Regions from separate parts of the Homo sapiens genome. Here all the other regions are linked to region 3. The links come from fine-mapping of genetic effects on gene expression. A gene starts in region 3. Each other region holds a variant in brackets. All regions are shown on one strand. Distances are between the middles of the regions. Region 1 has its middle 220 kb from the start of CPHXL. Region 2 has its middle 250 kb from the start of CPHXL. Region 3 holds the start of CNTNAP4 (contactin associated protein family member 4).

What was found. PIP is the estimated chance that this variant, and not a neighbour inherited with it, causes the effect.
Region 1: its variant is fine-mapped to the expression of CNTNAP4 in hippocampus (GTEx, PIP above 0.99). The same link has a PIP of 0.9 or more in caudate and substantia nigra.
Region 2: its variant is fine-mapped to the expression of CNTNAP4 in putamen (GTEx, PIP above 0.99). The same link has a PIP of 0.9 or more in prefrontal cortex.

What each region holds. Positions count from the first base shown.
Region 1 is chr16:75,943,988-75,952,684 of GRCh38, forward strand. No RefSeq gene overlaps it. Among named protein-coding and RNA genes, the nearest start is that of CPHXL, 220 kb to the left of the region's middle. The variant T/C (reference allele first, on the strand shown) is at 4,701.
Region 2 is chr16:75,972,204-75,980,900 of GRCh38, forward strand. No RefSeq gene overlaps it. Among named protein-coding and RNA genes, the nearest start is that of CPHXL, 250 kb to the left of the region's middle. The variant C/T (reference allele first, on the strand shown) is at 4,497.
Region 3 is chr16:76,272,688-76,281,384 of GRCh38, forward strand. CNTNAP4 (contactin associated protein family member 4) reads left to right here and starts at 4,714. Exons shown (of 24, transcript NM_033401.5): 1 at 4,714-5,060. The coding sequence starts at 4,976.

The DNA.
Region 1 (8,697 bases), 330 kb before region 3:
GGATGATGGCTGGATCCTAGAAAGTGTGATGTCAATGTTATCTATGATTACAATCAGAGTTCAGAGTTGTTTTTTTTTGTTGTTTTTTTTTTTCTGGCCCATCAGATCAATTGCTAAATGGAGACAGGGGATTGGGTATTGTTTCCCAAGCATACCTACTTTGCATGGATTTTGATTGCTAGCCCAAAGAGGTCAAACTGCAAACAAAAATTGGGGCGAAGCAATTTATTTTGCCGGGGCAGTGAGCACTTTCAGAGCAATGAAAACTGATAAAGCTCCACTCCCTTAAATATGACCTTTGTCCTCCCTGCTTTGTTTTCTTTCTTGTGCTTGTCACCTTCTCACGTATCATCTATGACGTGCTGATTTATTTGTTTGCTTTCCATCTCCTGAGCTCTACGTAAAAAAGCAGGGATTTTTTACTTTCTTTCTTTTTTTTTTTATTATACTTTAAGTTTTAGGGTACATGTGCACATTGTGCAGGTTAGTTACATATGTATACATGTGCCATGCTGCTGCGCTGCACCCACTAACTCGTCATCTAGCATTAGGTATATCTCCCAATGCTATCCCTCCCCCCTCCCCCCACCCCACCACAGTCCCCAGAGTGTGATATTCCCCTTCCTGTGTCCATGTGATCTCATTGTTCAGTTCCTTTTTAACTTACTATTAGCACCTGGAAGAGTGCCTGACTCAGTCAAACTATGGGGAATAAATGATATTTCCTGGCACTTATTGTTCCTTTTCTTTGTTTCTTACCTTATTTCTTCAAATATTTTTTCATGAGAAAACATTATCAAAAAGAAGGCTGGACATTAATATGCTTCTCTGGACCTGTGGAGTTGTGCATAATGTCAGTTTCATTGAGACAAACCTCATCTATGAAATGGATGTTCAGAGAAGCCCGCTGATGGCAATTTCAGTTTTGTCTTTGGAAATCAATTGCGGAATTGACATACGGTCTTCTGAAAGTGATGGTACTTTACTTGCTGTTGGTTGTCCACTCTAGTTTCCCTGCCAGTCTATATGTGGGCTGCATTCCACTCCAGCTGCAAATTCTAATCACAGATTTTTGCTCAGCAATGCTTGCCAATGAGAGGCATTGAGAGCTATGCATTGTGGAAGTTGATACATGGCCCAGTCAATCTATGACTTATGAGACCTATTGCAAGTCCAAGGAACTGTATTGATTCTGCAGAATGGACTGGAAACTGACCTTCATCTCACAGAACCCTCCAACTTGCTCCTGGTCTGTTTATTCCCAATGGAGCACTTGCATCATGCAGCTTTGTTCCAAAATCATTAACTTTTATTTCCCTTTACATTCCATCATGATTTTTACCTTATGTATAAAGAGTGGACAAATAGAAGTCTTTATTTAGCACAAAAGCTCAGTCCTGTTTCAATGTCAGCTATTCAGAGGCAGTTAATTTTATCTTCTCTCACTGCATGGGTTTAGTACACAGATACTATTTCCTTGGAAATGCAGACATTGTGTCAAAATAATGTACATTTGATCCCTACACTACTTGTGCCAGCAGTTATTAATGATCATCCTTAGAGTATTGTATTACAAGTAGTCTTTTTAAAATGTTTCCCTCGTATCTTAATTAGATTAATCTTAATATTAAGACTGTTGCCTAATTTCTCATTGTGGTTGTACCAGCCAGCACATTATTGCATAGGGAGTTCAACAAATGATGGGCAAGGTGAGTTAAATATTCATTCCTGAGGCTGTTTGGGAAGGGACATCAACTGTCTGCCGCCCTCAGGTTTTCCTTTTATCTATAGAATGGATGAGAGGCTGCAATAGGGCTTTCCTCTTCAGCCATTCTCTTTGTTCTTGAGATGCAGGTGTGGACTGGACTTCAAGATACTACCTAGAAAACATAACCAGTTTCCCTATTAGGTTGTGATCCCTTCGTTGTGCCTTTGAATTCCGAGCATATTTTATTTCATCGGAGGATGGCCATTACATTCTAATAACTAAAATTATAGGATGTTCTGGCCAGAAGGAAGCTTATAATTCTTCTACCGGAGAATGTTCATTATGCAGATAAGTAACAAGGACTGAGAATTTCAGAACTTACTCCAGGCCACAGGGCCATCGGCTTATCTGAGATGAAAGTCCATGGCTTCTGAGCTTTCCCACAGTATTACAGCTTGGTTTGGAGGTAGCTACTCATTTTTCCTGGGCATTTATTTAAGGTAGAACATTTAATACAAGTCTGCCTTCTTTGTCAGGGGTGACTGCACCTGCAGTTGTTCCCACTGCAGCCTAATCAGGCAGGGAGGTCAGTCTGTGAGCGTGTGTCTGAAAAACACATACCGACTACTTTCTCGTGGCTGCTTTACTCAGAATTGTCACATCATTACCAGGTCTTTCCTGTTGCTATGTTCGGTTCACCTGAGGGGAGAAAATTGAACTGAACAATGGAAGATATGTGAACAATCAAAAAAAAATTAAATAAACATTTTTTCCCCTAAGGTGGAAAGGAAGGTGAAGGAGTCAAATAAAACCTCCTAAGAATAATGATTCCTTCAAAATGAATGTCATAGCCCTTGTCTTGACTTTGTTATGTCAATACTATTTTATCCATACTGCATGATCTGCAAAGCTGATGCTACATCCAAGGATGGGGAACTTCCCTTTGTTATCTGCCAATATAGCTACCAATTCTATAAGTGTGAATGGAATGGCAATACTTTTATTAGTAAGCAAGTATGTGATTTTATTATACAGTATGTCAAATAAAAACTGCCAGGGAGAAAAAAAAGGAAAGGTAATCTTGGTGACAGGTGAACACCTTAGTTATAGGAACATCTTAGTTTAAACACAGTTTCTGAGTTTGCAAGTTATATACTAAATAGCACCACCATATGGAGCAGATGTAGGCAAAGCCACAAACACTAAGAAAATGAGGTCACAATTGTGGAAATGAGACATTTCCCCCTTTTTCCATGCCCTTGGTTGTATGCAGATTGCTCCAACCTAAAGGGATACATATTGAACTCATTTTCTGTAATTTAACTGAATTACAATGTTCATTTTTATATATAGCTAGAAAGAACTCAGACATAAGAAAGGGTATCTATTAGCTCTTTCTTTTTTTTTGAGATGTAGCCTTGCTCTGTCACCCAGGCTGGAGTGAAATGGCACAATCTTGGCTCACTGCAACCTCTGCCTCCCAGGTTCAAGCGATTCTCCTGCCTCAGCCTCCCAAGTAGCTGGCACTACAGGTGCCCGCCATCACACCCAGCTAATTTTTGTATTTTTAGTAGAGACGGTGTTTCACCATGTTGGCCAGGCTTGTCTCGAACCCCTGACTTTATGATCCGCCCACCTTGGCCTCCCAAAGTCCTGGGATTACAGGTGTGAGCCACCAAGCCCGGCTTAGCTCTGTTTCTTAACATGAAAACAAAATCTTTGCATACAATTTTAATAGCAATTCAAGTGGTAGAAGAACAGGTAACAAATTGTTTATTTAAAACCTATTTTACTTTAAAGATGAATCTTCCATTCTCCTCTCCACTCCCTTCATAATGTTCATTCATTCATTCCTTCTTTCATTAAAATTATTTGGCATGAATTGAAGTTGTTTTTGAAGCACCTTTCCTGGAAGTAATCAACACAAAGAGTTATTGCTGTGTTCTCTCACTTTTTTTACTTTGTGACAAAATAGAAGCATAGAATTGGACCCTTTGAGGAGGATTGACAGCTGCAGGGGTGACAAGGGCTGATCTTCCTGGAGGAACAGGGACTAAGTCACACCATTCAGATGTCTGCCAAATTTGAGAGGCTAAAAAGACAGTACAGGGGAAAATGATAGCCCTTGTGGATTTACACTGATTTTCTGTGCATAATAATGGACAGAATTGTTTGCAGAGTGCTCTTTACTTTGGAGCAATCTGCATACAACCAGGGGAAAGGAGAGGAGAGAGTCTGAAAATGCTGCAGCAGTGAGATGCCCTATATGTAGACACAAAGTCCTTCTCGTAATTGTGTGGCAGGCAGAATAATGACTCTCCAAAGATGTTCACACCCTGATCCCTGGAACCTGTGAATAAGTTACCATCCATGGCAAAGGGAACTTTGAAGGTGTGATCAAGGGGATGCACCTTGAGTGAAGGAGAGAAGCCTGGATTACACAGGGGCATCTAATCTAATCACACCCAGCCTTAAAAGTGAAACACCTTTTCCTGGTTTTGTCATAAAGAGGTGCAATAAAAACAGGGGGAGAAATTCGAGGTGTGAGAGGGATTTGCTATTACTGTCTTTAGAGATGGAGGAAGGGGTAGACCAGCCAAGGAATGTGGGTATCCTACAGAGACTGGGAACAGCTTATAGCTGACTGCCAGTAAGGGAACGGAGATCTTAGTTCTACAACCTAAGGAAGTGAATTCCACCAACAACCTGTATGAGCAAGGAGAAATCTGTCCAGCCTCCGGAAAAGAACACAGCTCTTCCAAAACCTTTACTGTAGCCTGGTGAGACCTGCATAAGACTTCGGACCTACAAAACTGTAAGTCCCTTTATTTGCTGTGTAATTTGTTAGAGCAGCAATAGAAAATGGATACAAATGGTTACAGATCAAGAGACGTCTCATTTGGGTAGGTGGAATAAAGCAATGCTACATTTGCCCTTACATCTTGAAAACAAGCATTATTGACAATTTAGGCAAACATCCAGATTAAAATAA[T/C]GAATAAAAGGGCACATGTGCACAATAGCCAGAATTGTTATTTATTATCACAGAATGGAGCTTTTCATTTTCAGACAGGCCTAGGAGGTATGAGACACAGGCTTTTTGTTGAGGTGTTTTGAAAAATCATTTGCAAATTTTGATAGTGAATGATTCCTCTTCTTGTTTCTGGGTAAATGTCATATGTAAATATATTCATTGTAATCACTCAGACTTCTTGAGATACCTAGCAATTAGGTTAAGTTTGTACCAATTCCTTTGCTTTTTATCTCCATAGTTAATTGAATCTTCTACAAAACTTACTTTTAGTTCATTATTTCTCCTTCTCTTTGGTCTTCTTTCTGGGGATCCTGTGTATCTTCTAGTTTTACATTAAGATTTTGCATTGAAAGTCCTCCTGAATGTGCAAAATTGTAAGTGTACTCAGGCCTCACACACAGATGTAACGTAAGCACTCAGGGACATTCGTTCTGTCTGGCGGTGCCTGGATCATTGCTTAGGTTTAAGTTGTATTGTAATTTTACTTGTTCAAAATATGATTTCATTTTTTCCAGCATATAAATTACTTGAAGAGGCAGAATCTGAGAGTCAATAAAAGTTACACATACACAGATAGGTCTAGTGTGGTCCGTCCTGTATTGATACAGGCTCTTTAATAGGCACAAGCTGTTGTGTTTGTGCCTGTGTGTTGTGTTGTGTACAAGTGAGACAGACCCATTCTTCCTTAGGCTCAGGCCACATGATTTTAGGTCTGTTGGGGACTGAATTGTGTCTGCCATCCCCCAACTCATATGTTAAAGCCCTAATCTCTGACTGCTTCTGGAAACAGGGTCTATAAGAAGGTAACTGAGCTTAAGTGAGGCCAGAAGCAGGTGGTCCTAATCCTGTAGGTCTGGTTTCCTTATAAGAAGAGGAAGAGACAAGAGAGAGCCCTCTCATTCTCTCTTCATACTCACAAAAGAAAGACAATGTGAGAAAACAGTGAGAACGTGGCTATCTGCAAGCCACAAAGAGAAGTCTCATCAGAAATTGAATTTACCAGCACCTTGATCATGTACCTCTGGCTTCCAGAACTGCGAGAAAATAAATATCTGTTGTTTGAGCCACGCAGTCTTAAATGTAGTATTTCGTTATGGCAATCCTATCAGACTAATATGAAGCCACTTCCAGGAGTTTTTATTTCATCCTAGGAAGCCCTTGATGCAAATTAAGCTTGGGACAGGTGGCACCATCCAATTTACATTTGAAAGCAAACATTTCTGGCTGTTGTATAAAATATGACTTAAAAGTGGGGACTAGAATGAAAGTGGAAAATCAGCTGAGAAGATACTATTGTGTTTTGTGTAAGAGACAATGGCATTTTTCAATATTTGTGTGAAGCAAAAATTACAACTCTAAATTTTTCAGTTTATAAAGTATGAAGATGGAATATGTATCACAAAAACCTCACAAAGAGTAGTGATTTGAGGTTAGTAGACATATACTATTGAACATTCATGCATTTCCTGTGAGATGGTGTAATATTAACATTATAATTAAAATTTTATTATTCATAATGTAACCTCTAAGTTATTATGAAAAAGATGCAAAGATACATAGCAAAAATGCCAATAAAGGAAATTAAAAGAAGTACCAAAAATATTTGATTAACTCAAAATGAGGCAGAAGAGACAGAGAAGAGAGAAACAGATGGGACAATTAGAAATCAAATAGTAAAATGATAAGCCAAAATCAAACTTAGGCTAACGTTATATTTAATGTAAATGAGGTGAATATGCCAGTTGAAACATTAGAATTATCAGATAGTAGGAAAAAAGGAAGATCTAATTAAATACTGTCTACAGAGACATTCTGTTATAATTAAATCAGAGGAAGAGTGATAACAAAAGGATGAAAAAATGATACACCATGCAAACAATAAACATGAAAAAGAACAGCTATATTAACATCAGACAAGGTAAACCTCAAGACAAGGAAGAATGCTATAGATAAAGAGGGATGTTTTTAAATGAAGAATTCTATTCATTACAAAGACATAATAATAATTAATATATATGTGCCTAACTCTAGAACTTCAGATTCTATGAAGCAAAAATAGAATTACAAAGAAAATAGAAAATTACACATAGAAATATTCACATGTCCTCTCAGCAATTTATAACAACAACTACATTAAAATATTGGTCAAAGAGTAGAAGTTATGATTAGCACTATCAACCTCCTTGATCTTACTGACATTTATAAAGCATGACATCCTATAACTAGAATACATATTATTTTCAAGTGACATGGAGCTTTCAAGAGATAGATGGTGAGCCATAAAACAAATCTCAAGGAGAATAAATTGATACTTCCATATAGTTTCCAAAATTGTTGTATCTATTAAAGCTAAACTTATGCCTACCCTATGTTCCAACAAACCCGTTCATAGGTATACACCACAGAGAACTGAGTTCCCCCAAAGATGAGTACAAATTATCTACAGCAGTTTTATTCATTACACCTTAAATCTAGAAAGTCTAACAGGAGAATAGACACATTGTGGTATATTCATATAAGGGAATATAACACAGAAGAATAAACTGTTTGCTGTGCAGAACAAAATGGAAGAATCTCACAAATACAATAATGTGCTCAGGAGTGCAGTCATGAATCTGGTCATCCTGTATGACTCCATTTATATGAAGTTCAAGAACAGCCAAAACTAATCAACAGTAATTGAGGGAAGAAGACTGAAGAGTTACTAATTCTTGGAGTAGAAAACATTGTCTAGGAAGGGCACAAAGGATCATTCTCCATGATGACAATTTACATGTTATATGGGTGATTGCAGCACTTAACTTAAATGTAAGTTAAGTCCCAATCAAAGCAACTGACTGTTCAGGTAACAAACACTTGGTTTCAGAGGCTCAGCCTTTGCCCAACACCACCAACTTTATAAACAAGATATGTCATAAGAACCTTGATTTTCCAGTCAACATTTTTAGGAGCTCCCAAATGATCCAAAAGTAGAATTGGATATCATTTCCTTCCCAAATTCATTATTTCCAAATCTGATGACTTGAAATGTGTGATCCTTTAGACAGGAGTTTGCAAACAGGTGAGCTTTGTACCAACCATATAAAGAAAATTTCTAGAGCAAATTATTGATTCAGTCAATCCTGCAATGAGAATATTGAATGACTTAAAAATATAAATGATTTTGAACTCTTTGGAAGCAATTACCAGAAACTGATGTGCTAATGGTATGTTATACCAGTGTGGTTTTAGATGGGCAAAACTTTTGGGCTAGTTGAAGTTATTTTGAAGTTGTGAAAAAAAAAAGTTGTTTTTCTTTGACAGCACTTCCTACTTCTCACACATTTCCTTCCATTAGCCGCCCCTTCCTTTCTTCCCTCCCTGTTATTCCAGGTATGCCTAGTAGGAGGCACCTCTTTCACAGTAGCCTAGACAAGCTTGGGCATCTCTGCATGGAAACTTTTGATAGAAAGAGAGTTACAGATTGTAAGTTTTTTTAGTTGCCACAGCTGTAGGGACATTAAAGATGTCTTGTATACATAGACATGTGTTAGCTGAGCCAGTGGAAAGTGCTGGAGTTGGACCTGACTTTAAACAGAGGCTCTAGTACTTGGTAGTTACGCAATGTTGGGCAAGTTACTAAAACTCTGAGCCTCAGTTTCCTTATCTGTAAAATGTAATTGATAATCATTGGCTTATAGGGTCATTGTGCTATGGTTATTGTGATAGGACTACATAGAATGATGTCGGGCATATCATAGGAGCTCAATAAATGATGGTATTATTACTTTATGATGATAATCCTGCTGCTATTGCTGCTGCTGATATTACACTTAGTGGAATTCTGTCCTCCTTCCTTCATAAATACAGGCAGAAACATAAGTACACAGTTAAGCACAATTAAATGAATTCTTTTGTTACAGTTATGCACAATTAAACGAATTCTTTTGTTTCTTTCTGAATAATGGGGCTTATCAAT
Region 2 (8,697 bases), 300 kb before region 3:
TGATTTTATAACTGTTTCTCTCTTGGCTTTAAGTCTGAAGCCTTTATTGAAGTAGGACCAATGGACATTTAGTGGAAATCTCTGCCTCCATGCACAGTTCCTTCCTCTCACAGTGAGAGCCTGTAAAGAGTGTCGCTCACAGAGCCTCACATCCACACTCTCCCCACTGTACCCACCATCAGCCAGCAACTGTCAGGCAGGGGATATTCTGGGAAGAGGGATTTAAAAAGAAAGCACAGGGCTGGCAGTCTTCACAGATTCTTGTGAAGAAGTATCTCTGACATTCAGGGTGCACAGTCACTCCTGCTCATGGCCAGCTGGGTAGAAAATTGCCCTGGACACCATGCATGTGACTGAGAGTGAGGCAAACTTTTAAATGAATAACTAGGGAGAGGAGGATTGCGTTAGTTTAATTTCCTACTTTTCAATTTCCTCAGATTGGTCCTTCCTGATGAATCCTGTCTAGTAGTTACCAGTGGCCCCCCTAATTGAGACCAGTAAGAGCCCAGCCAAATAAGCATTTAAGGTTCCTTTCCTGTACCTGAGAATCACATAGCTTAGATTGTCACCTCTCAGGTGGCAGAACCCTAAATGTTCAATGCTGTATCATCTGCTGGCAGTTTCTAGTATTCTCCTCAAGTTTCCTACTGCCCCTAACACCCCATCTTGTTCTTTGTCTGTGTCTCTCTTTCTTATACATACACACACACACACACACACACACATCAAAGAGGCATATGCCTATAAAATGACCATCCCTGCATTTTAATCCCATGATACTTGAATCTTTAGCCATGTCTCCAGTCCATGGGTTGATGTCGTTGGCATTTCCCAAGACCAGATCCTCTTCTCATTTCCCTCTACCGTGAACCACTCTCTGGTTAGTGATCAAGTTTGCTTTTGATGACTGCAACATCTTTGGTCTTTACACTTAAGATGATATAATAATTAACTAGCTAAGCTTTCATCTGGCACACTCTGATCAATTCATCTTGCTGTTTATGCTTCTGGGCTGGATTTGAGTTTTGTTGCAAACCCAACATTTATTGGGGCCATTAAAAATAATTCTTGTCTTTTCCCTTTCTTCGTCTCACATTTATAAAGTGAATGTACATCCTATACAATTGAGGTTTCTAAAGTCTGCCTGTAAGGTGGAACTGGAATATAGTAAAATATTCCTCTTGAATATTCCCACAAATCACTCATAAGATACATACTATGGACATGAATAACCTCAGTAAGACCAACAAAGCCAAACAGCTTTTTCTACAGCGTTGATCCAATCACTGTGTCTTCACTTGACTATCAGATGAACTTTTGCCTTGCGTTTTGGCTTTATCTTATATGAAAATGTACACATTTAACCCCAGAATCATACTTGTGCGCTGAGATATTCACAATACTGGAGACAGAAGGGTTGACTGATAAAAACAGCACATTCTGTTCCTAGGGTTGTACTTCCACTGTGGCATGTGTTCATTGATAGGAGTGGAAAGTCGATAGTCAGTACTCGCTCTCTGTTCTTTTCCTCAAGCACCTACACTTGGATTTGCATAAGTCAAATGTACAAATGACAACATGCTAGTGTTCCTTTGCGCAGCTCAAAACTTACCCTCAGTAATTCACATGGCTGACCACGGCATTGGGAACCAATGGTGATAACAGTGACCACTAACTGTGCAAAGTATGATGCTTAGTGTTTTATATTGTAATCCTATTTAATCTGCAAATCTGCTCTGTGAGTTCTGCCTTATTAGTCCCATTTCCCGGATATCTATGTGTGGATAAAGTTTTAAAGAACCTTTCAATCTTTAGGGAAAAAAGTAAGCAAGAGACATCACTCACCTACTTTGATCCCACTGTGCATGTGTGTTTCTGTATTTGTGTGTGTGCATATCGAATGCAAACTGGCTTACAGGATGTAACATTTTAAAGAGCTAAAAGTTGAGAGAGCAGTAACTTTTTATTATACTTACAATGAAATGATTGAAGATTGGAAGGTTGGTAATTTTTTTCCAAGTCATACAGCTAGTTGAACTGAATAGTTTGAGTCACATTGCTTCCTACTCTTTTTAGAAGAGTAACTTTTGTTTCTAACTTGTTTTTTATTGTCTATTTTCTAGTTTTCTAGCTTTCTTATGAGCTAGAACTTCGGTAATGTCATTGCAAACTGCAAGGTATTGTTACGCTACATGATTTTTTCAAGCAGCTGATTGGCTTCTGGGTTTTTTTCTTTTGAGACGGCCTTGTATTTGCTGTCTCGAGATTTCCATTACAGAGAATTACCAATTTTTCTAGTATAATACAATTTACTATTGCAAAAAAGGGGCCTATTTCTCTGTTGGGGCTCTTGATACAACTTTAAGGTGTTTCCATCAATTGAGGGCTTAGTCTTAAGTCGCCTGGATGGGTGTGGTAACACTTTGTGTTATCTATTGGTCAGTCAGAGGCTTAATAGGAAATTTATCTCATTTCCACTTACTATGATATATTGCTTCTTCTGCTTTTAATTTTTATAATGCTTTTTATAATTTTTTATAATTTTATAATGCTTTTAATTTTAATTTTAATAATGCTCAGTGTAATTTCTGTTTTGGTGCTTTCTTTGATATCTTATGCTATATGGTTTTTGTTGCCTTTGTTTTGTTCGCTCATTCATAAACATTTTTAAGGCTTGAGGAATATATTTTTAGATATTTTAGCGTTGACTGTTGTAAGTCAAATTATGATCAAACATACTCACATAATTATAACTCTATATCTTTATTTACTGATGTTTAACTTGAAAAAGAAGTTATGTATGGCTGGGCGCGGTGGCTCACGCCTGTAATCCCAGCACTTTGGGAGGCCGAGGTGGGCGGATCACGAGGTCAGGAGATGGAGACCATCCTGGCTAACACGGTGAAACCCAATCTGTACTAAAAATACAAAAAAATTAGCCAAGCGTGGTGGCGGGCCCCTGTAGTCCCAGCTGCTGAGGAGGCTGAGGCAGGAGAATGGCGTGAACCCAGGAGGCGGAGCTTGCAGTGAGCCGAGATCGCGCCACTGCACTCCAGCCTGGGTAACAGAGCCAGATTCCGTCTCAAAAAAAAAAAAAAAAAAAAAAAAAAAAAAGAACTTATGTAACATAAATGATATGATGGTCTCTAGTTTATCAGTTTTGTGAGTAGACATGCCAAGGTTTGGTAAGAGATGCTAGCCAAACTGCAGACTAGCAGCCAGCTCTCTACTGGAATACTCTACACCAACAGAGTTAATTTTCATGACCTCTTACCACACACTTTTCAAATTTTTCTGAATATGTTGATTGCTATTAGGTCCAGACTCAAAAGTAGACAGTTTTTAATTGAATTGATTTTCAAATAATAGATACTTTTCTAAATCTGGTCAGTAAACAACCTGTAAGCCAACAGCAAAATTTTATATAAAACATTGACCGTTATGTACTTGTAGTGATTGATTTACATTCTGATTCTTTAAGTACTTAAAAATGCATGTTTACTTGTTAAAATAGCCACCAGGGGGGCATTTAACACAATGCAGCAATAGTGTACTAAATATAATAAATGAGAATGTGCCAGGAAGACGTTGCTAATAGAATAGCACCACAATCAGCTTTGCAGATGTGGATTACATATTACAGTGAGCTTTATGAAAGCAACTGGATATAGAAAACTGAAACTGGCTATACATTCAAAGGTACACCTGTATGTATGTATGAGCGTATGTGTGTATATATATGTATATACATGTATATGCATATATATTTAGAGCAAGAGGGTACATGGATGTTTATAGAACTGTATAATTATATGTTAATAATATTAGTAAAGAGTTGCTCAAAAAGACTGTAATGTTAGGCCTGGTGCAGTGGCTCACGCCTGTAATCCCAGCACTTTGGGAGGCCGAGGCGGGCAGATCACGAGGTCAGGAGATGGAGACCATCCTGGCTAACGTGGTGAAACCCCGTCTCTACTAAAAGTACAAAAAATTAGCCAGGCGTAGTGGCGGGCGCCTGCAGTCCCAGCTACTCTGGAGGCTGAGGCAGGAGAATGGCGTGAACCCGGGCGGCGGAGCTTGCAGTCAGCCGAGATTGCGCCACTGCACTCCAGCCTGGGTGACACAGCCAGACTCCGTCTCAAAAAAAAAAGAAAAAAAAAAAAAAGACTGTAATGTTTGCATAATCGAGGCAACTTGTTCAAGAAAATGAGTCTCAACCATAGTCAGAGGAAACTTCCTGAAGTTTGAAGGAAAGTGTTGCAATCAAATTTTGACAGAAAGCATCTCACTCTCTTTTCAATTATGCAATTATGCCAATCACTTTCCCTTGAATAGAGTGATTAAGTATAGAGCATAGTTCTCTCTGACATAGAAAGTCTGTATGTGTGTGTGTGTGTCTGAGATCCTTGTATTTTAATTAATGACACAAATCTGCAAAGAAAAGGTAAATAATAATCCCTTGATACTTTCTCCTAATGTTTAATGCTTTGTCATGA[C/T]GTGGCTCATTATAAGCCTTTGTTCTTTATGCCAGGCAGTAGTGGAACAATGATATTTTGTATTAGAGGACAACTGTTCTTTCTCCTACATCTTTCCATGATGCTATCACACGGCTTAGACCTTGTCCCTCAGCAGCTGATGGTCTGCCCTCTGAACCTAGCATCTATTCTGCAAAAGACATGATGTTTTTTTCCTGTGGACAAAAGTTCAGCCTTCAAGAAACTCACAGGAGAGACAAAAAAATTACAAAAAATATCTGTAATGATAAGCTAAATGGGGTTAAGTGAAACAATATTGAGAAAGCCCAAAAAAGAAATAAAAATTATACTGGGTCAGTAGAGAAAATCTTCATGGAATATTTGTGGTAAATCTTAAAGACGTGGTAAAATTTTATCCAAAGAGACACATAATGAATACGCAAGGAACTGAGACTACTAATGGGTGGAAACAGAAACAGCTGAGGGTAACTGCAAAGCGTTTGGTTTGGATGATGCCAAGGAGATGTGAAGAGGAGTTACGGGAGAATAAACTAGAAAATTAAGGCAGATCCATGTTGTTGACCTGGAACTAGTCTTTCTTAACTGGGGTTTCACAAAATAATTAAGCATTACATAAAATAAGTTGTGTGGTTATTTTCTTAACACTTCCGAAGTTGGTAACAACTATCAGCAATCTAGATGGATAGGAAGGAAGTTAATTTGTTACATACAATGAGTGTCCAGGGCATTTGGGTTTCATCGTCTCTGGGAACCCCAGTTGAGAAAGACTGGCCAAGACTCTAGATAATGACGAACTGTGGAAATATTTCAGTTAAAGTGTGACATATTGTGTTTGGGTTTTAGGAGAACTTAACAGCAACAGTATTTAGGAGAGTTTGAAGAATGTGAAATTAATGATTACTAGATCATTTAAACATGAAGGGTGATGACGGAAATGAAAATGGTAATCAAAAGAAGATGATGGATGCACAAGAATTACTAATTCACTCATTTAAAGCAAACATAGATTGGCTACCTACTGGATGTCAAATATTGTGGCTATTATGATAAGCAAAATAGACTTAGCCTTTAACCACTGAATGAGGCGTCAGGCATTAAGCAAAGAAGCGCAAATCCATGTAAATTCCCAACAGGGATAAATGCTATAAAAAGTTTCTTGTGCATATAACTCACATGACGTCCTCTACAGCCTGGTTTTATGTCCTGGAAGAAATGGATAACTATACCACACAATGAGGCTTTATTTGTATATGGTGAGTTTTGGATTTATTTTCTCATTAGTGGAAGACCAGCAGATATTTAAAATCAGGAACTAAGATTATGATAGCAATTTCCCTTTTTCTCTTCTTGATCATGGGATCTTTATTTCACTGATGGTGGGCTTACATTATAGTTACTACAAATTATAATCTTGTAGCCTCTGTCTGTCTAATGATCATTAAAAGCCATGGCTTTATTCTGCCATATTAATTCCTACTAAATAATGCTTTTATGAAAGTTGTAATGATTCTTCCATAAGGGTATAAACAAATATAAACAGGATTTTTTCTCCTTGTAGATTGTACATGCATAATTGCTGTATTTTATTGACACTGTCTACATCCTATGATTCACTATAATGAAGGCCCTACTCAGGCATGGGTGAATTTTCTTAAGTTGAAAAATGAGCAAAACTACAGCTGGAAACGAAATAAAAATAAGTGAATAGAAGCTAAAATGAAAGAAACATTTTTATTTTAATTTTTTTAACTTTTAAGTTCAGGGATACACATGCAGGTCTGTTACATAGGGAACCCCAACTGAGAAAGACTGGCCAAGACTCCAGATAATGAGGAACTTTGGAAAAGATTTAAGTTAAAGTGTGATGTATTATGTTTGGGTTTTAGGAGAACTTAACTGTAACGGGTTTGTTGTACAGATTATATCATTACCCAGGTATTAAGCCTGGTACCCTTTAGTTATTTTTCCTGATCCTTTCCCTCCTCCCACCCAGTGTCTGTTCTTCCCCTCTATGTTTCTACGAGTTTTCATAATTTAGCTCCCACTTATAAGTGAAAACATATGGTATTTGATTTTCTGTTCTTATGTTAGTTTGCTAAGGATAATGGCCTCTAGCTCCATCCGTGTCTCTGCAAAGGACATGATCTCATTCTTTTTTTATGACTGCATAGTATTCCATGGTGTATACGTACCATATTTTCTTTATCCAGTCTATCACTGATGGGCATTTAGGTTGATTCCATGTCTTGCTATTGTGAACAGTGTTGCAATAAACATAAGTGTGCATGTGTCAAAAGCTTAAATGGTTATTGTGAATCTGCTATTAAAGATGTCAGAAACGTTACTCATTCTTCAATCTATTTAGGTCCTAGGTGAGCATTTACATTAAAATTTAATACCAAGATAAGGGCCTCATTAAGAAGTTTCTGTTATTTCTCAGTTTTAAAAATTGAGATATCTATCATGACTTCTAAGAAGTTGAGGAATAATTTTGATAATAAAATATCATTACTTGCTTCCTTGGATTAGATGTCCACATTTTCTTCTCTTTGATCACACTGTATCCCTGCTCCATTCTGTTTGCTACTTCAAATACAGAACTTCTAAGTCATTATGATTAATTAGAGATTTCCTATTTCTTAGTATCAAGTTACTCGAGTCTCTGTATGATAGTCTGACACTGTGTGGACTAACCAAAGATGATAGATAGCCTTGCTTTGTCTTCACTAAGCAGACTATAGCATGAACAAGCTTTACAAAAATGAAATTCATTAGAAAGAACAATAAACATTCCCATCTCATACTTGCTGTTCATATTTTCTATTAAGGTATGAATGTCTTCTGGGAAGGATCAGCAAAGGAGGAATTTTTGAAAATATAAAAGTAAATGTGAAAATAAAACTGAAAATGTGTAGGTAGATCTAATCTTGATATGGGAAATAAGCCATAAGTTTAGCTTTCATGGTTGTAAATGTTGTAAAATAAACGCCCACAAAAGTCTAGACTAACAAGAAGGGATTTAGAAAAACAAATGGCTGCACTGCTTTTAGTAAATCACATTGAAAATGATAAAACTGCTGAAGAAAACGTAAACAGAAATCTGTAAAACTTTAACATTTATATGGGACTATGAGATTTAATTGAGTCCCAATACATGAAAGCTGTGTTATCCAATATGACAGCCACTAGCCATTTGTATTTAGTTCTTGTTGAGAACTGATGATCTTCTCCTGAGACTAATCTTCTGAGATAGGAGCACTGTCTTATATCCCTCTTGCTCATATACCCCACTCTCTGCCTGAGCTCTCTCCCTGACTAGCTGCTAGCAGAGTGCAAGGAATAGAATCAGAATCTCAGGAAGGGAAATTCCCTCAGGCTTTTACATCATTTGGTCCCATACTTTCTGTTAAAGCAAAGCACATGTTTTTAGAATCACTCACTTCATCCTTATGCAAATGTTAAAATTTTCCTTTTACTAACTTAGAAGGAGATTGGTAACAACAGTAGCCTCAGCTTTACCCTAATTCTCCAGAGGCATCGTGGAACATGTCTGATCTTTCTTCTATCCAACATTTCTGTAAATATTTAATGCAAATATAGTGAAACCAGGTAGTGGGTCATCTATTTTTAGTTGTAGATGGGGAGACATTATCAGACAGTGCCACTATACATGACCTATTCCTGCCTATTTTTAATGCATGTATGTAACCATAAGGTTAATGCATATGTGCAACCAACAAGGTTATTACTGTTATTTTCCAAGTTGAGCAGTTGACAGAGGAGCTTTTCACGATGGTTATAGGGCCTAACCTTATCCGGCTTCAGATTTGACTATAAAGTTGTTGTTCTTCACTATTCTACACTTGTTTCTATAAATTGCAAGCACATGAAATATTAACTATCTTATTCTGGGTAAGTTGTAGTATTATTTAAACAGTTTACCCTTCTGAAATGATGGATTTTTGGGTAGTGGAAATAACCACGATGACACCCCCCTGCAAATTATAGTGTTGGGGAAATTGTTTTAAATCAAGATTAAGAGGCAAGAAGCCGCATCTAGCATGGGACAGAGTGAGATGCTGGCTTGCCAGCATTTAAGAAAGGAAGTACCATGCAGACCTAGCACATTACTCGGATCCTCAGTTGAGTCTAAAAAGCATTTAATTCTAAAGTTTCTTATGACCATATATTAATGTGATTC
Region 3 (8,697 bases):
CAATACCAAAAACAAATAACCTGATTTAAAGATGAGCAAATAACTTAATAGACAATTCTCCAAAGAAGACATAAGAATGGACAACAAGCATGTGAAAAGAGGCTCAGCATCACTAATCAAGATAAATGCAAATCAAAACCTCAATGAGATATCATCTTATACCCATTGGTGTGGCCACTATCAAAAGAATAGAAAACAAGTTCAAATAAGGATACAGAGAAATTAAAGCCCTGTGCACTGTTGGTAAAAATGTAAAATGATTCAGCTGCTATAAAAAATAGTATAAAGGTTCCTCAAACTTTAAAAATGAATGATTATGTGATCCAGCAATCCCACTTCTGGATATGTATCCAAAATAATTCAAAGCATTATCTTAAAGGAATACTTGCACACTCATGTTCTTTGTAGCATTACTCACTATGGTCAAAAGGTGGAAGAATTCCAAATGTCCACTGAGAGATGAGTGAATAAAGAAAATACAGTGTATACATATAATGGAATACTGTGCAGCCTTAAAAAGAGGGAAACCCGGTCACATCCTACAATATGGATGAACATTGAGGACACCATGCTAAGCGAAATCAGTCAGTCACAAAATGACAAATACCATATAATTCCACTCATATGAAGCATCTGAAGTAGTCAAAATCAGAAACATAAAGTAGAAAGGTGGTTGCCAATGGCTGCAGGAGGGGAGGGAAGAGAGGGATTTAATGTTTAATGGGTATAGAGTTTCAGTTCTAGAGATTTGTTGGATCACAATGTGAATATTCTTATCACTACTGAACTATACTTAAAAATGATTATGATGGTAAATTTAATGTTGTATTTTTTTTAACTACAATAAAAATGAAGGTAAAAGCACAATGTCTAAAAAGTATCCATTTCATTTGGAAGATATAAAGACAAATCAAACAATGTAAAAGAAATGAAATGATTACCCAGATTTGAAATGAAAAGATTCCTATAATAGAAATGTAGGGTAAAATAACTGTTAGATGAATAAATGAAACAAAAACATTGTATGTTAATTTCTTTCTAGTCTTTCAATGTAATATAGTTCCACTCTTGCCTTCTGGCCCTTTTCTAGTCTAAACTATAGTTTAGGATCCTCCATGGACCACTGTGGTGGGATATACAGTTCTCTGGCAAGTTGTAACAAGAAAATAATTCAAAGCCTGATTTTAAGAATTTCAACATTTTGATCTGATTTACATGGCTTTTGCCAGGCAGGGTGTAACCTATAGTATGGACGTGGGAGACCTTAAACACCAGGGTCTTTTCTTAATTGGTGGAAAACATAACCAAAATACAGACACAGGGAGAAGTGATTAAAGGAATCTGAATCAGCAGTACAGGTGTGCAAAATTAGATCTCCACACTTTTCTGACTTTTCCTTCGATTTTCTGATGTTAAACACCATCCTGGAGGGAATGGAGAAATGATGCATAAGTTAGTAGGTCTTGGAGATGAACCCTTTTCTGCCACCAGTGGGTCATATCCCACAAGCTGTAATCCCTCTGCTCATCAGATTTCTTTTCTGTGTCGTGTGAGTTGTACTAATATAATGATTACAAAAGGAATATTGATCATGCGCCTCCTAGGCATGCTCATTTCACAGGACATTGTCTTAACCATGAGGTTGATACCGTACTCATCGTTGGTGCACAGATGAGGAAATTAAGGATCAAGGATTATTATCCTGATGCAGCTTGCCCAAGGCCGTGCAGCTAGTGGGTGGTGGAACCTGTACAGACACTGAACCTGGGTGGCCAAGCTCTGACATTGCCTGCTTAGACCAATTCTCTGTACAGTTTTAATGCAGAGATCTAAAGCTGGGAAGTAAGTGAGGGCCCACTAAGCACAAGGCATTCAATAGTTGTCATATGTTATACCACAGTAACTCTTTGGTCATGATTCTCCTATCGGGTCATAAAATAAATAAACGAAAGGTCAGCATCATTGAGTCATTTAATCAAAACAACAGTGGAAGCTTGTATCAAGGCCGCTCTGGTTTTTTTGTTTTGTTTTGTTTTGTTTTTTTTTTTTTTTGAGTCAGAGTCTTGTTCTGTCGCCCAGGCTGGAGTGCAGTGGCTCGATCTCAGCTCACTGCAAGCTCCGCCTCCTGGGTTCATGCCATTCTCCTGCCTCAGCCTCCCACGTAGCTGGGACTACAGGCGCCTGCCGCCATGCCTGGCTAATTTTTTGTATTTTTAGTAGAGACGGGGTTTCACCATGTTAGCCAGGATGGTCTCGATCTCCTGACCTCGTGATCTGCCCGCTTCGGCCTCCAAAAGGGCTGGGATAACAGGCGTGGGCCACCGCGCCCGGCTGAGGCCTCTCTGTTTACCATATCTCAAGCACTCACTGTTTCATTTGTCTAGGCAACTCTCTACCCCTCTGCAGCCATCAGGCAGAGACAGGTTTTGCAGTGACTTGAAATGCTCAGGTCTTCTATTGAGGGCCAGCCCCCAATTCCTTCTATTACTGTAGCCCATTGATATGGAAAAATCCGCCAGTATTGGTCACTATAATAATTTATACATTGTCCCAAAGAAGTTATTATTGTTATAAAATGTTTATTTTTCATTTTTGCTATGTGTACTTATCCATTTAAGATGCATTCTCTAATTTGTTTTAAGAGAACAATTAAATACAATATTGTAACAACGAGACAACTTTTTTCTTCTGGAGAGCCCACAACCGTCCCACAGACATGATATTTTCTTCAAAGGACTGATATAATTATTCAATTAGATAACAAATGGCATATAGTATGTGTTCAGTAAAATTTAATCTCCTTCAATAATTAGTTAACATAAACTGTTAATTTATATCTGCTTTTACTTAGCATATGATTGAAAAAATAAAATCAGGAATGCAAGTCTAGGAACACAGAATAAACACTCAACCCATGACCTTTCTTTATTTTATTGTATTTATCCTTTTTTTTTTTTTTTTTTTTTTTGAGACAGAGTCTCGCTCTATTGGCCAGGCTGGAGTGCAGTGGTGTAATCTTGGTTCACTGCAACCTCTGCCTCCCGGGTTCAAGCGAATTCCTGCCTCAGCCTCCCAAGTAGTTGGGATTACAGTTGCCTGCGACCACACCCTGCTATTTTTTTTATTTTTAGTAGAGATGGGATCTCACCATGTTGGCCAGGCTGGTCTCGAACTCCTGACCTCAAGTGATTTGCCCACCTTGGCCTCCCAAAGTGTTTGCTGTGTTTTCCTAGGGCCTAAGGTTTTTGCTGCCACTGACAAGGGTCAGGAAGGAGGTATACTCTGATTTAGGGGCAATAAGTCCTAGGGTGAGAGCAGTAAAACTGGAGTCAGAAAAGCCAAATCCAGTCCTCAGCATTTATTACTAACTCTATGACCTCTTCGAATCATTTAAATTCTCTGTTCTTGTTTTCTCTTGTAAAACAGGAAAAGAAAAAAGATGCATTCTGCTTTGTTTGCAGGCATGAGCTAAACAAGCATGTTTAGTTCTTACGGGTATTTCTGTCATTTTCTCACTCTTTGACAAACCTATCTGATCTTTGACAAACCCACTCTCATTATTCCATAAGAAAGTGGTGTTAAAGGCTTATGTTTCTTCCAATTTGTGATTACCAAGAGGCACTTAAGAACTCCAGGATTTCCATTTGTATAAAATCTAGCACATTATCAGTAAAACATCTTGACATTTATTTTAAATAGATTATTTATCTGCTATGAACCATGTGACATGCTTCTTGTTATGTGATAGTAACTCCATTATTTAGACATTTTAAAATTCCATTCAAGAAACAGTTGTATCCATGGACCAGCCATTCAAAGAGTAATTTTTCTTTAATCATTGATCTTCCAAATTCAACTTTACTCCTCTCTCCTTTAAGTCACCTGAATTACATCGTCACATTGTTCAGTGTTTGTGTGAATGTGTATGCATGTGTGTATGTGGTGGTGGTGGAGGTCCCTTTCTTCAGTATTCCCTCATTTCCTACTTTGGGCCTTTTTGGAAATGTTATTAAAAATTTTGATTATAGAATGGTACTTCATATTCACAGCATGATGCATTCATCAACATAAATCTAGCCAAAGCATTTCATTTGTGGATTTATACACCTGAAGCATTAAAATAAGAAATGTTAATTTCTTGCAGACTACTACCAGATGATTTTAAATATCTGCTAAGCAGGAATGTCTGTTCCCATGTGGGGAATTTCCATAATAAAATCCTGGCACCCTCGCTGAAGAGTACAGTTTTATAGAAACAGAGAAAAACAACAGCAAGTATTTTCCCTGAGGACGGTTTTAGCTACAATTTCCCAATGCTGCTTAGTTATTTCTGTCTTATTTTATGCTTTTGTTTTGAAACATAATGCAATTTTACCTGGATGCACTCCCGGATAATCAGGAATGGCTCAGTGTGTTTTCTGGCTCTTGCAAATGCAAGACCTCCAGAAAATCAGAAGGCTCCACCGCCTTGTCCCTTCCCCCACTCACACCTCCAGCTGGGAGAAAAGGGTTAAGGATTATTGGAAAATAGAAGAGAAGGGAGGGAGCCCCAAGGAGGCCCACGAACGGGAGGCCGCGCCTCTGGGTGCAGCGGAGCTCGAGCGCTGTTGTGTGTTTGGAAGGAAGGATGCTGCTGCCAATTTGTGGGACCGCTGCTGCGAGGAGTGGGCGTGGCCTCGGCGGTGTGGATGCTTGTTAGGAAAGATGCTGAGTGCTTTTCAGTGAGGAGTCAGGGAGGTGTGTGTGAGAGAGAGAGAGAAAAGAGAGAGACAGAGACGGGGAGAGAGAGAGGGAGAGAGAAGAGAGGGAGGAGGGAAGAAGAAAAGACGGAGGGAGGTGAGGAGGAAGGGAGGGGGAGAGACAGAGACCTAGAGGGGCTGAAGACCCAGACAGAGCTGGCAGAGCTACTGAGAAGAGGACTGGAGCGCTCTGAGAGCCTCTCAAGATCTTTTGGGGGAGCCCAATAAATGTGAACATGGGATCTGTCACGGGAGCTGTCCTCAAGACGCTACTTCTGTTATCTACTCAAAATTGGAACAGAGTCGAAGCTGGGAATTCCTGTAAGTATACAGCAAATGATTTAAAACTTGCTGGGGGGCTCTCTGCAAAACTTTGATTCTGTTGGTTTGATGATGATTATTTGCAGCTGGGATTGCTGCAAAGCGTATTGCTGTAAACCAAGCATCACTTAAAAATCTTGCCAATGTGACCGGTTAACACTTGTCTCTCCTCTTGGTCTGGTCAAAATAGGCAAAGTGTCATTTCTCTTTTTGTCTACTCGCAGAATCTTACCCTCTGGTCTTTGAGTATTCATTGAGAATGCCCAAGTTCTAGTAAAACATGAAATTAGCATCTTATCGGGGGAATAGCCTGTGAATATCTTCATTTCTTCTTTTTTAAAGAACTACTGAATTTTATTGGAATTATGTCTAAGAGGAAAACAACTGGCAGACTTTACATTATGCTGCATTGGCTTAGATTTCTGAAGTTTGCAATTGGGCAGACCAGTAGCTGCCTGCATCTTTAAAATAATGCAGGCTAATAACTGAAATGTACTGCAGGCTTCAGGAGCACCAGCACTGGCTGAGGCGAGTCTCAGTATTAAGAGCTGTGCCCTCGCTGCTAAGAGAATGAGACTTAGCGCTCTCCGGAAAGAGGAGCCTCTTCCTACATTTCGCTTAAAGGAAAACCAGTCAGGTGGTCTTTCAAAAGTAGGATTCCTTTGTGGTTGAATGCTTAACTGCATAAATTTGTAATTGAATGTTCTGATGAAATAGAACCTATTTAGGGAAGATTGAAATCTTATTTATAATTTAGATATCATCCATAATAATTTGGCAGACTCCCTTCATCCACTCTTTATTAGAGATAGAAAAAGTTTTAAAAGTTATCTTTGGCTTAAATTCTCTAAATGGGAGAATTTTCCCCTCCTGATTAATGACAAACAAGCTTGGCAAATACAACTTTTTATTTTTTCTTGGATTTTAAAGGAAAAGCTCATTTGCTTTCCAAGAACTGGCTATGAGGCCTGTCCAGGAATTTATGTTGCTGCTGTATCATCAGGCTTAGATTTGGGGAACAGAGGCAGTAATCAGACATTTGCTATGGCATATCACTTGACTATGTTAAGAGTTCTGATATGTGAAAAACATGACAAACTCATGGGCACAAGTCAAATGTCCCCTCACAGTACCTGGCTCCCGTGATTTCGTGTTTCAGTTCAGAATGGGCTCATTTAATGTCACAGGGTATCCATCACTCTGAAAGAAGGAACCTCACTTCAGGTGCTGCACATCAGATTCAACTTTAGTTTGAGTGTTGTGATAATCTCATAAGTCAATAAAATGTATAATTTCACCTAGTCAAAACCTTGGAATCTTATAATGGTAGCATTAGAAAAACATTGCATCATACAAGCAAACAATAACAACAACACCCACACACAAATGGAAGTTCTGTAGAAAAGGCATAAGTAATTCATCTTCCAACCACTAAAGTTCAACCAAAAAGAAAAGCACTAGAGGTCACTCTTACAATGTAAAGCACATCACCCCAAGCATCCTTCCCTCAAGAAAAGCAGAGCTTAAATCTGGCCTGTACTCCATTCAGTCTTTCCACTAGACTGCCTGTAGTTGGGTTTAAAATACATTAATCTAATTATTTGGGCTGCTAGTTGTTTATGTTTGCTTGTTTTCTTGAAGCTCAATAAAAAGTGTAGGGTGTACATCAACATTAAATAGCTTTCTTTTGCCATATATCTTCTTAGAAAAGAAAAGGTGCTGAAAGAGATCTGAGGAGAGTGTAATATTTATGTCTGCTTGGCTCTGGTTGGATCCCTCACTGACACTTAAAATTTCAGTGCTGGTTCTATATTCTTTCAGCCTTGGTTTGTTAAGGAAGTAGTCTAATGCTCTTTTAAACATCTGATGAACTTGCAAAACCTATACGATTTTTCATTATAAAAAACATTTAAAGTTGGAGTTCTTGCTTACCATGCATGTGGAGTTGACTGTTCTTCAAGTGTCAAAAATAAAATGAAATGACCTTATATAATTAAAGTTGCACTCAGTAATTTATTGTGAATATTTTGACAATATGATTTGCAGCAGTATGTGTAAAAGAAAATATTTCATTTCTCAATTTCTATTTCATTTTTCAATATTTAAGAAGTATTTTCTTTTTGGAAGAAGTAAGGTCTACTTGTACCAAGCCATGGTGGAAAGTACTTCATATGTTTCATCCTTTTTGGAAGGACAAGTGTATATATATTTCCCAGCAAGACTGGAATTTAGTGTAAGGACAAGCAACTATCAACCAGCATATGCATTTCTAAAGTATTATAATGACTCCAATAATTCTTCTGGACAAGACTTTATATTAAGAAAAAGTGAGTCAGTCTTGACTACCAATAGTAATATTGGAAATAACTGAATATAAATAAATAAAATTAAAGGACTAGAAAGACTTTTCCCCTTTATTTACAGCTGATGAGCCAGGAGCAAATCTGTCATCTACAGAGTCAGCCCAAGGTTGCCAGTTTGAAAGCTTTCATGGGACAGAACTCTGCAAAACCAGTACAGCTCAGGGATTAGGTGCACTTTAATTTGAATGTTAATTGATCCAATTAAACAGCAGGGAAACTTTACATTAGAAGGATTCTGTTCAAAGACAAACATATATGTTCACATATATGTATATGTGCTCATTTGTATATAGGTATATGTGTATGTAGATATCTAAACTACTAGACTCGTGCTCATTTGTATATACGTATATGTGTATGTAGATATCTGTAAACTACTAGACTCATGTGCTTGCATATTTTTGGTGGCCCTGTTAAGTACTTATCTGTCTAAAGATGAAATATGTTGAATGAACCACGCTCCCTGCCTACTAGTATCCTGTCTGACATTTCAAAAGCAGTGGACTAGCCATAATTTTTTTCTCTTTGTTCTCATCAAGATGAGCTTTTACAATTATATTGAAGTGTCCCTTCCATCAAAGTTTAGAGACGGATCCTTGCAGATGGGTGTGCTCTTTGAGAAGCTGCACTGGCTGTTCTTGGTTTCTTTGCTTGCTACTAAGAGACATGCATTAAGAACAGAGACATTTCTCTATTTTTTAATAGCTCTTATAAATCCAGTTTTTGAACATTAAGACATGGTTGAAGATGGGGTCAACTTACCCCAAAAGAAGGAATGGGTACAGTAGTAAGGCTGATAAGAGTTTGCTTTTATTTTAACTCTTGCAGATTATGTGAGGGAGGCTCTCTAGTTACTGGTATACTGAGCCGTACTCTTGAGAATAATTAATGCTCCCCAATGACTTAATTAGAAGTTAACATCTCACTGTGTTCTTTCTTTTCTCTGATGGAAATAAAGGCCGTATCTGATACCTACCCTAAAAGAAGCACTGAAGGATAGATGAAGGCAAATTGCCTAAGTAGATGATCACTCTTGTGGGTCCTGGGAGACAGCTGGACAGATTCTCACATTGTTAAAACTCAACCTTGTAATTCTTTCTAGAAGCTACTTTCTTTTCCTCCCCCCACCATATTTACTCCTATAGCAGAAAATAACTAGAATGCAATAGTAAAGTACTGATAAAATATAATTCTATGAGGCAATGCATAAATGGCTAGCCCCTATAAAGATCAGCACGTACTTTGACTCACTTTTCTAATAGCAATGGTGATTT